Regions from separate parts of the Homo sapiens genome. Here region 2 is linked to region 1. The links come from fine-mapping of genetic effects on gene expression. A gene starts in region 1. The other region holds a variant in brackets. All regions are shown on one strand. Distances are between the middles of the regions.

The links. PIP is the estimated chance that this variant, and not a neighbour inherited with it, causes the effect. A credible set is the group of variants that fine-mapping cannot tell apart.
Region 2: its variant is the best candidate, but not a certain one, in a credible set for the expression of CNTN1 in aorta (GTEx, PIP 0.71).

What each region holds. Positions count from the first base shown.
Region 1 is chr12:40,690,815-40,695,210 of GRCh38, reverse strand. CNTN1 (contactin 1) reads right to left here and starts at 2,772. Exons shown (of 24, transcript NM_001843.4): 1 at 2,619-2,772.
Region 2 is chr12:40,623,420-40,627,815 of GRCh38, reverse strand. No RefSeq gene overlaps it. Among named protein-coding and RNA genes, the nearest start is that of CNTN1, 67 kb to the left of the region's middle. The variant C/T (reference allele first, on the strand shown) is at 1,781.

The DNA of each region.
Region 1 (4,396 bases):
AGAATCTTTAAGGCTACTTATTATAGGACTGTGTTCAATGTGGTGGGGTATACAAAAAGATTATAAGTGTAGTCTTTTTCTGCAAAGTACTTCCTAATTAGAAAACAAATCAGACATACAAATGAGGATTAAGCAACAAAATAAGACTAAGTATGATTAAGTTCCCAAGTGAAAATAGTCTACTAGAGATTCTGAAGAGGAGTGATCGTTTTGTTAGAACCATGAATTTTAAAATGCATTTAGTTGATACATACCTATGTATTGTTATTATTACCAGTAGCCCTGTTTATTAATGACCCACTATGCGCCCATCCCCATGATAGAAACATGCATGCTTTTTATGGCCCTCATAGCAACCTGAAATTTCAATGCTATAAAATTCCTTTTGAAGACAAGAAAACAGATTCTCAGAGTTTAATTATCTTGCTCCAAATCAGATCATCAGGAAGTTGCAGAGCAAAATTAAAAGCCAGCTCGCACTGCCTATGATGGTAACTTGGTAGATTAAATAATTTATCTTCAAAATGACTTGGCAAGTTAGAATTTTGTTCTTAAAACACAGAATTAAATTTTGTAGGGATACATGTCAGACTAGAACCGAATAAACTTGGTTTATATTGTTCCTGGTATCAACATTAACCACATTTTGTTGCCAGGACCAAAAATCCTGGGAAGCTAAAAAGTATTCTATTTGAGGGGAAACTGCTATGCAGTATAATTACACGGCAGGTTGTTGGAATATTAAAGTTTTCAGAAGACTTTCAACCAATCACTTGTGTCTTCTGAATCTTAGTTTCTTCATCTGTGAAAATGGAAAGGTTGTCATCAGGAATAAGTAATTTCAGGGAATGGCAAAGATAAATGCACATACATCAATCTATAAAAGAAAGTTCACATAGTACAAATAGATGTGATATGAAAAAGCAGTACAAATTTAAATATCAGGTCCACATGTAAAATCTGTACAAAGAAATACCTCACATCTACCCCCGCAAGGGTTCTAGCAGTTCCTTAGTCCTGGAAAGTGGGTGGATCCATTCCCAGATCCCCAAATGCTGTTAGCCATAAGTTACCACTGAAATAAATTTACTACCAAATAACCAAACCATTATGCCGAGTCTAATAAAATATCCCAGATACGGCATGTATTAATTTGATTTGCGTTACACTTCGGGCTGGTAAGGTTCATATGTACACTTAGAAACCGAAAAATGCGGCGAAATGGATGAAGATTATATTGGCACTCTAAGAATGTTTGCAAAATACTGAAATATTGAAAACATGAAATATGACATATTGAAAACATGAAATATGAAATATTGATCTTTACGTGAGTTACAAAAACATTATTTCACGCAGGGTTTCAGCAGTCTGAATGCTTCTTCTCCGGCTTTTCCCCCAATGGAGAATTGGATTCCCTTTTGCCCCGCCCACTCAGTGCTTCCAGATTGCTTGAGAAGGCCAAGGCAGCCGGCTCAGCAGCAGGGAAGCCGGGCTGGGTATGCAGGAGCTATATATAGCTCCACCTTGGAGATGTGCACACACAAGCACACGTACGAATACCCATGCCCGGTTTGGCATGAAAATAAATAAATAAATAAGGAAAGGTCGCAGCTATCCGCTTTCCCTCTTTCCCATCATCCCAATTTTTCAGGAATTTTCAAAGCAGGGTGTCATCAGTCCCAGAGGGTGATGCAGCGTCGGATCTCTCTGCAATTCTTCTGCCTACTGCTCCCAGCAATCTGACTCCTGCAGGAACCGGCACTGGGCCAACACCTACTACCCAGATGCGGTCACCTAGGGAGGCAGCCTCGCAGCCGCTCGGAGCCCATCCGGGCACAATCACTTGACTCCCTGGAAATCCCTGAAGCCAAATCCACCTTTCAGAAACTAGGTGTGAAGGTGGTTCCCGTAGACAGCGCCAGGCTAGGAGGGAAGGGGCCGTGGCTCCGCGGTCTCTCCCTCCCACCTGCCGCAGATCGTGGAGAAGGGCCGGTGCCTTCTCAACGGAGACGTAATTAATCGGAACGTGCCCTTCGAGTTGCAGGGATTCTTCCCCACCCCCATCTCCTGAAGGGAGCTAGATCTTAACAGAGGGGTCAGGGGACAAACAAGTCGCTTCCTCCCCTCTCCGCAACCGCTCCCAGGTTTTCCGGGATGCGCTAGCCAGGCGCCCAGGTGGGATGGGAAAGATGAGCAGGTGCGGGCCGGCGTCGGGAGAAAAAGACCTGCAGGCCCCGGGCTGCCGACCTCTCTGCTTCCCCACCCCTCCCCTGCCGAGGCGATATGGCATCCCTGGGGCGAGTTCCCGGCGCTGGCGGCGGCAGCCTCCGAAAGGAAAGTTGACGAGACACAGACCCCGAGCTCGGAGCCCTCTTCTAGGGCACTGCCGTCCTGCCTTGCCCGGCACCCCAGGGCTCCGGCATCCCGCACCCCTGCTTCCCCGCACCCCAGCCACCTCCGCCCCAGTCCTTCCCGCGCCGCACGGCGAGAGCTGCAGGGACCACAGGAGATTTGGGGGTGACGAGGGCTGGGCGGGGCTGGGGGAAGGGAAGCAACAGCATGGAAATGCGCATTCTTTATTTTATCTGCAAAGAAGGAAAAGTCCAGCTTCCTACCTGTTCCCTGCTCCTGCTCGCCTCGGTGCGGCACAGCTGGACCATACCCTACAGGTTTCCCACTTCCGCTGCAAACACCTGGGAGCGCATCTCCCCACCGGCGCCCCTCCTCGCCTCGGCGGAGCCCACCCTGGCTACTTGACAGCAGAAGCCCGGCCTTTTAGGGCGGTTATTGGGGCAGCAGGGAAAGTGGGGCGGGGACCACAGGGAAACCCGCTTCTCTGATTGGACAACAGGGATATCACTCTCACCCCCAGGACCAGCGCAGGCTGCAGACTTGGGTAGCTGCTAAACCCAACTGCAAAGGGTCTCTGCAGTGCCTGAAACCCAAACCTGCTGCTACCGGATCAAGGACCCTTGCTGGAGAGAAACTGGTTTGATGACTTGTCATTTGGGGCCCCAAGAGGGAGGGAGGGTCCAGGCATAACTAGACACCCAGCACTTTCCTGAAGCTTCCCTGAAGGGACCATCTGCTCCGGGAGATTTGTCAGGCGAAAATACCAAGCCAGCGCCTCATAGAGAAGAATGAGCTTCGATTAGGAAATAATAAGATACTTATGTGGGAAAAAATACACACACAGAAAGGAAAATAAAACGATGTGAGGTTTTTTTTTAAAGTTTCCATTTTTGTCCAGATGTAACATGGCAGTTTTTCTTGAGAAAAGACGGAATTGCTTAGTCTGTAATGCAGAAGACCCCCTAATATTCCCTGGTAGAAACAGTGTTTTAAACGGGAAAGCACTGCATAATAACCTCTCAAAAAAAAAAAAAGGGTAAAAGAAATTAAGGCCAAACTGCATGAGAGATTTGCTTTGGGGCAGTTCAGTTTGTGGCAAAAGTCTTAAAATAATCACCATTAGACTGATTGATAATTAAGTGATCTGTTACTTTTCTATTGATAGTAGTTTATCATTTCTTTAGTACTCAGACACTGAGAGGATGTTTATGCCCCCAAACCTAAGTGATCCCAAGCCTGCCTTTTATGTGAAGGGAACAGGGTAAAATAACTTTGTGTCCAGTTGCCATCTCTGCCATTTATTCAGGTGGAATCTGGAAATTTTGGAATTCAAGAGACTCCTTAAATGAAGGAACGTGCTAGAACTACCACGTGTAAAACTGGGAGTGTAGGGTGTCTTAGTATATAGTACCATGTGAGGAATCAAGTTGCCTTCTGCCTGCAAATAGCCACATTCTTCTTCTATCTGAATTAAGTAGCCATCTTAAGTGCTGAGCATAAGACACAACTCTCATTCTCACAGAGCTTCAAAGAGCTTATGACAGGCTTGGGACACTGGACAACTGTTAGAGAAGATGACATTGCTATTAATAAATATAGACTCTACTTAGTGGTTACGGTTGTTATTACTATCATCAGGTAAGGCTCTTCATAATGTTTTCTTCATAATACTGAAGGAATCCGATTAATGCATTTGAAGGTGGGGGCCGGGCGAGGTGGCTCATGCCTGTAATCCCAGCACTTTGGCAGGCGAGGCAGGCGGATCACAAGGTCAGGAGATCGAGACCATCCTGGCTAACACGGTGAAACCTCGTCTCTACTCAAAAAAAAAAAAAAAAAAAAAAATACAAAAAATACAAAAAATTAGCCGGGCATGGTGTTGGGCGCCTGCAGTCCCAGCTACTCAGAAAGCTGAGGCAGGAGAATGGCGTGAACCCAGGAGGCGGAGTTTGCAGTGAGCGGAGATTGCGCCACCGCACTCCAGCCTGGGCGACAGAGCGAGACTCCGCCTCAAAAAATAAAATAAAATAAAATAAAATAA
Region 2 (4,396 bases), 67 kb after region 1:
CGGATAGGGGTGAGAGTCTCTGTCTCTCTCTCTAACTGCCCTTGCATGCATGTTTCCTGCATTATGATTGCAATGTTCTGCCTAAGTTCCCCTTCTCAACAATCCAGATAAGAAGTAGGGCACTCCTGCTCTTCAATTCTCAAATTTATTTGCAGATATAGAATAAACACAACCTCTATTTTGACCTTGGGAGGGACAAAGGCAGGATCCCACTCTCTGTCCACATGGGAACATTCTTACTCTCCTCTTCCAATCTTTAAACCCTTTCCCCTAAACCATAAAGGAGGTTTATTATCTCTTTTCTGTGCTACCAAAGGAGAAGATGTGTGTAGTGAGGAGAGTCAGAAATGGACTCTTCCTCTACTGACTTTCCAGTCCAACATTACATTTTCTTGCTTCGAGCTTTATCTCAGGATAGTCAAAACTTCTATCCTTATAGGAATTTATTTACTTTGGAAAATCAAAATAATTTTTCTTTCTCTTGTAGTGGAAGGCATTCTTTCTGGTATGTTTTTTCGTAAGAATTCATTCAGAATTCTTTCATCTGGGATTGTAGTGCCCTCTCTTTTCAGAGGCAATTGAAAGGCTTTTTTTTTTTTTTTTTTTTTTTTTTAGACAGAGTTGCCCCAGCTGGAGTGCAGTGGCACTATCCCGGCTCACTGCAACCTCTGCCTCCCAGGTTCAAGCGATTCTCCTGCCTCAGCCTCCCAAGTAGCTGGGATGACAGGCTTTCGCCACCACGCCCGGCTAATTTTTTTATTTTTGGTAGAGACGGGATTTCACCACGTTGACCAGGCTGGTCTCAAACTCCTGACCTCAGGTGATCTGCCCGCCTCGGCCTCCCAAAGTACTAGGATTACAGTCGTGAGCCACCATGCCCAGCCTAAAAGGCTAAGGCATTAAGGACCTCAGTGGCTTCAATAGGTAGAGGGGTAGTGGATAAATAAGAAATTGTATCTGTGTGAAAAACTAGTTAAGATCTAAGTTTTATTACTGTCTCCAAATATTCCTCTCATGGACTCTTTTTATGGGATGATAAATATTCTGCATATCCTACCTGGTTTCCTAAAAAGATGAACATATGAAATACGAAGTATATGCACTTAAAATTTCCCCTTAATTTTTTTTTCTTTTTTGAGACAGGGTCTCACTCTGCCACCCAGGTTGGAGTGCAATGCTGCAATCTAGGCTTACTGCAACCTCCGCCTCTCAAGCTCAGATGAGCTTCCCACTCAGCCTCCTAAGTAGCGGGGGACTACAGGCATGTTCTATCACGCCCAGCAAATTTTTTGTAGAGACGGGGTTTCACCATATTGCCCAGGCTGTTCTCGAACTCCTGAGCTCAAGGGATTTGCCCACGTGAGCCTCCCAAAATGCTCAGATTACAGGTGTGAGCCACCATGCCTAGCCTTTCCCCTGAATTATTTATTGCTCTGGTCTACCCTGATCCCATCTACCTCACTTTATTTGAATAATGGGAGTTGGGAGAAAGGCTAGAAGAGTAGCCTTCTGACAACTTCAAAATCAATATGAATGAAGAAAAGACATGATTTTCCTCTTTTCTGGTCGATATGCATTATAGTTTGGATGTTTGTCTCCTCCAAATCTTGTGTTGAAATTTGATCCCCAATGTTGGAGGTGGGGCCTAATGGGAGGTGTTTGGGTCATGGGGGTGGATCCGTTGTGAAGAGATAAATACCCTCCCTGGATGGGGAAGTGAGTGAGTTCCCACTCTTTCAGTTCCCAGGATATCTGGTTGTTAAGAAGATCCTGGCATCTC[C/T]GTGATTTCCACATCTGCCAGACCCCCTTCCCCTTCCACCATGAGTGGAAGCAGCCTGAGGCCCTCACCAGATGACTACTCTTCCAGCCAATCAGAATCATGAGCCGAATAACTTTTTCCCCTATAAATTACCCAGTCTCAGGTATTCCTTTATAGCAACACAAATGGACTAATATAGAACCTGAAACTCTAATGAACAGATTGGCAGTGGGGGAAGGATGAAAGATCTCACAACCTTCTTTCAGGTAGTGTGTTGACTCTCTTCCTCTTAAAAAGGAAGGGGGAGGGCAAATCACTATTGTTACCTTACTCCAAATTCCATCAAACATACAATTAATAGAAATGTCTAAAGTTCCTGCAAGTAGATTATCTGTCAGGCAGTAGATTGCCTCCTGGTCTTTTCAGGATCTTCCCAGGAATCTAAGTGTTAAGTTGGGTATGAGGAGGTTGCATTAGATATTGCTTCCCATTTTGCAGACCAGGAATTTTAATAGCAAATTTATTCAGTGTAATTTGTTTCTTGGTGAAGTTAAAATTCTGGAAACAGAACAACAACGTGACCAATCTGAAATAGCATTACCAAGGTAAGTTTTTGTTTTTTTTGTGTGTTTTTTTTTTGTTTTTTTTGGCGGGGTGGGGGGTAAGGAAGGGTTTACTCTAATGGTCTTCTTTTTGCTCTTTAACTGGTAATTATCTAACTCTGTCTTTGCACCTGGAAGTGAAAGAATTCAGCCTTATGTGAGGGAGAATGTCCGCCATGACCCAATTCTCATCCTCCACTGCATAACTCCTGAAAGCGCTGATTGATTTCAAAGAGAGTGCTGTAAAGAGATCCTCTGTGATGTGAAGAGAATTAGAATTGGGCACAAAGGTAGAAGTGTAACTGATGCTAAAAATAGCTCATGCTTTGGAAAGTTGATTAATCCAAAGAAAAGAAGTTATTAAAATGTTCAATTAGAATTTCTGCAGCTTGCAGATTCTATTTTTAATTTCTAAAGCATTACATATGTAAAATGCAGGAGGATGTGAATCTTACTAGGATCAGAAAACAGAGAGGAAAGGGCAAAAGCTTCCTTTAAGCAGCAAACATAGGCAGAATTTGATAGCAGTAGGAGTAATTATTACTGCAGGTGTCCTAGTCTGATATGTCTCTTCATTATTATGACTTTTTTTTTTTTTTTTTTGACAGAGTCTTGCTCTGTCACCCAGGCTGGAGTGCAGTGGCGCAATCTCGGCTCACTGCAAGCTCCACCTCCCAGGTTCACGCCATTCTCCTGCCTCAGCCTCCTGAGTAGATGGAACTACAGGCGCCCACCACCAAGCCTGGCTAAGTTTTTTGTTTTTTTTGTTTTTTTTTTTTTGAGTAGAGACGGGCTTTCACCGTGTTCGCCAGGATGGTCTCGATCTCCTGACCTTGTGATCTGCCCGCCTCGGCCTCCCAAAGTGCTGGGATTACAGGCGTGAGCCACCGCGCCCGGCCGACATTTTTTTTTTTTACAACTTGTATTTCTTTAGAATTCCAGAAATTATTTTAAACATGAATTTTATAAGTTTGATATCCTAGTTTTGAAATAACATGACATTTATTCTTATTATATACGTCTTGAGCACATTAAACAAAGGAGCCATGTAACTCTAAATATTAATCAGTAATATAAAAATCAAATCACCCCTGGAAATAGCACAATCATCTATATACGGTGGCTCAATCTAGAAACCTTAGAGCCCACTTGATTCCTTCTTCTCCCTTATTCCCCACAACCAATCACCAAGTCCAGCAATGTTGCCTCTTTAATAACATTCAAATCAATCTACTTCTCTCCATCCCCATGGTTACAGCCCTAGTCCAATCTATCAAAAGCACTTGCTGAGACTATTCCGATAACCTCCCTACACTTCCTCAAACCTACTTGTGCTCTTCTCCAATCCATTCTCTATTTTAGGGTTACAGTAATGGATCAAATCCACATCTGATTATTTTATCACTCTTCTTAAAAGCTGCTGCTGACTTTTCCCTACTGTTGGGTAGAGTCCAGCATCCTCAATAAGGCTTTAAAGAGTCTGAACTATCCACTCCCCTTCCTAACTCTCCACCCTCATTTGAGTGTCCTTCCCCTTACTCTCTCTGCTCCACCACACTGAACTAGTGATTCCTTGAATTAATAGATACCATCTTCTGAGTGGTTTTTCACATGTTCTTTTTTTTTCTACCTAGAATTTCTGCCTCCCCTCTCTTTGTCTAGATGGCTTCTATTCATTCTTTAGATCTGTTTTAGCATTCAGGAAATCCTCTATCACATGTAAAAGATATATGTCCTATAGATCTTTATAGCATTCAACATACAATAACTCTTCATTTAATTTCTCCTTATCCTTCTATAGTCTATGATAGCAGTGATGTGCTTGTTATTTACTCAGCACATTAGATATAATGCATGGTGAATTATCTAATAGTTATTTACTGGATGAATGATTGCATGAGGTGACATATAGAAACTCAAAGAAGAGGGTCTTTCTGTGTGAAAGAGAATGAAAGGCAGAAAAGCCTCCAGAAGGAGTTACATTTGCGATGGTTCTTGAAAAATAAATAGATATTTTTCAACTCAAAAGAGCTGC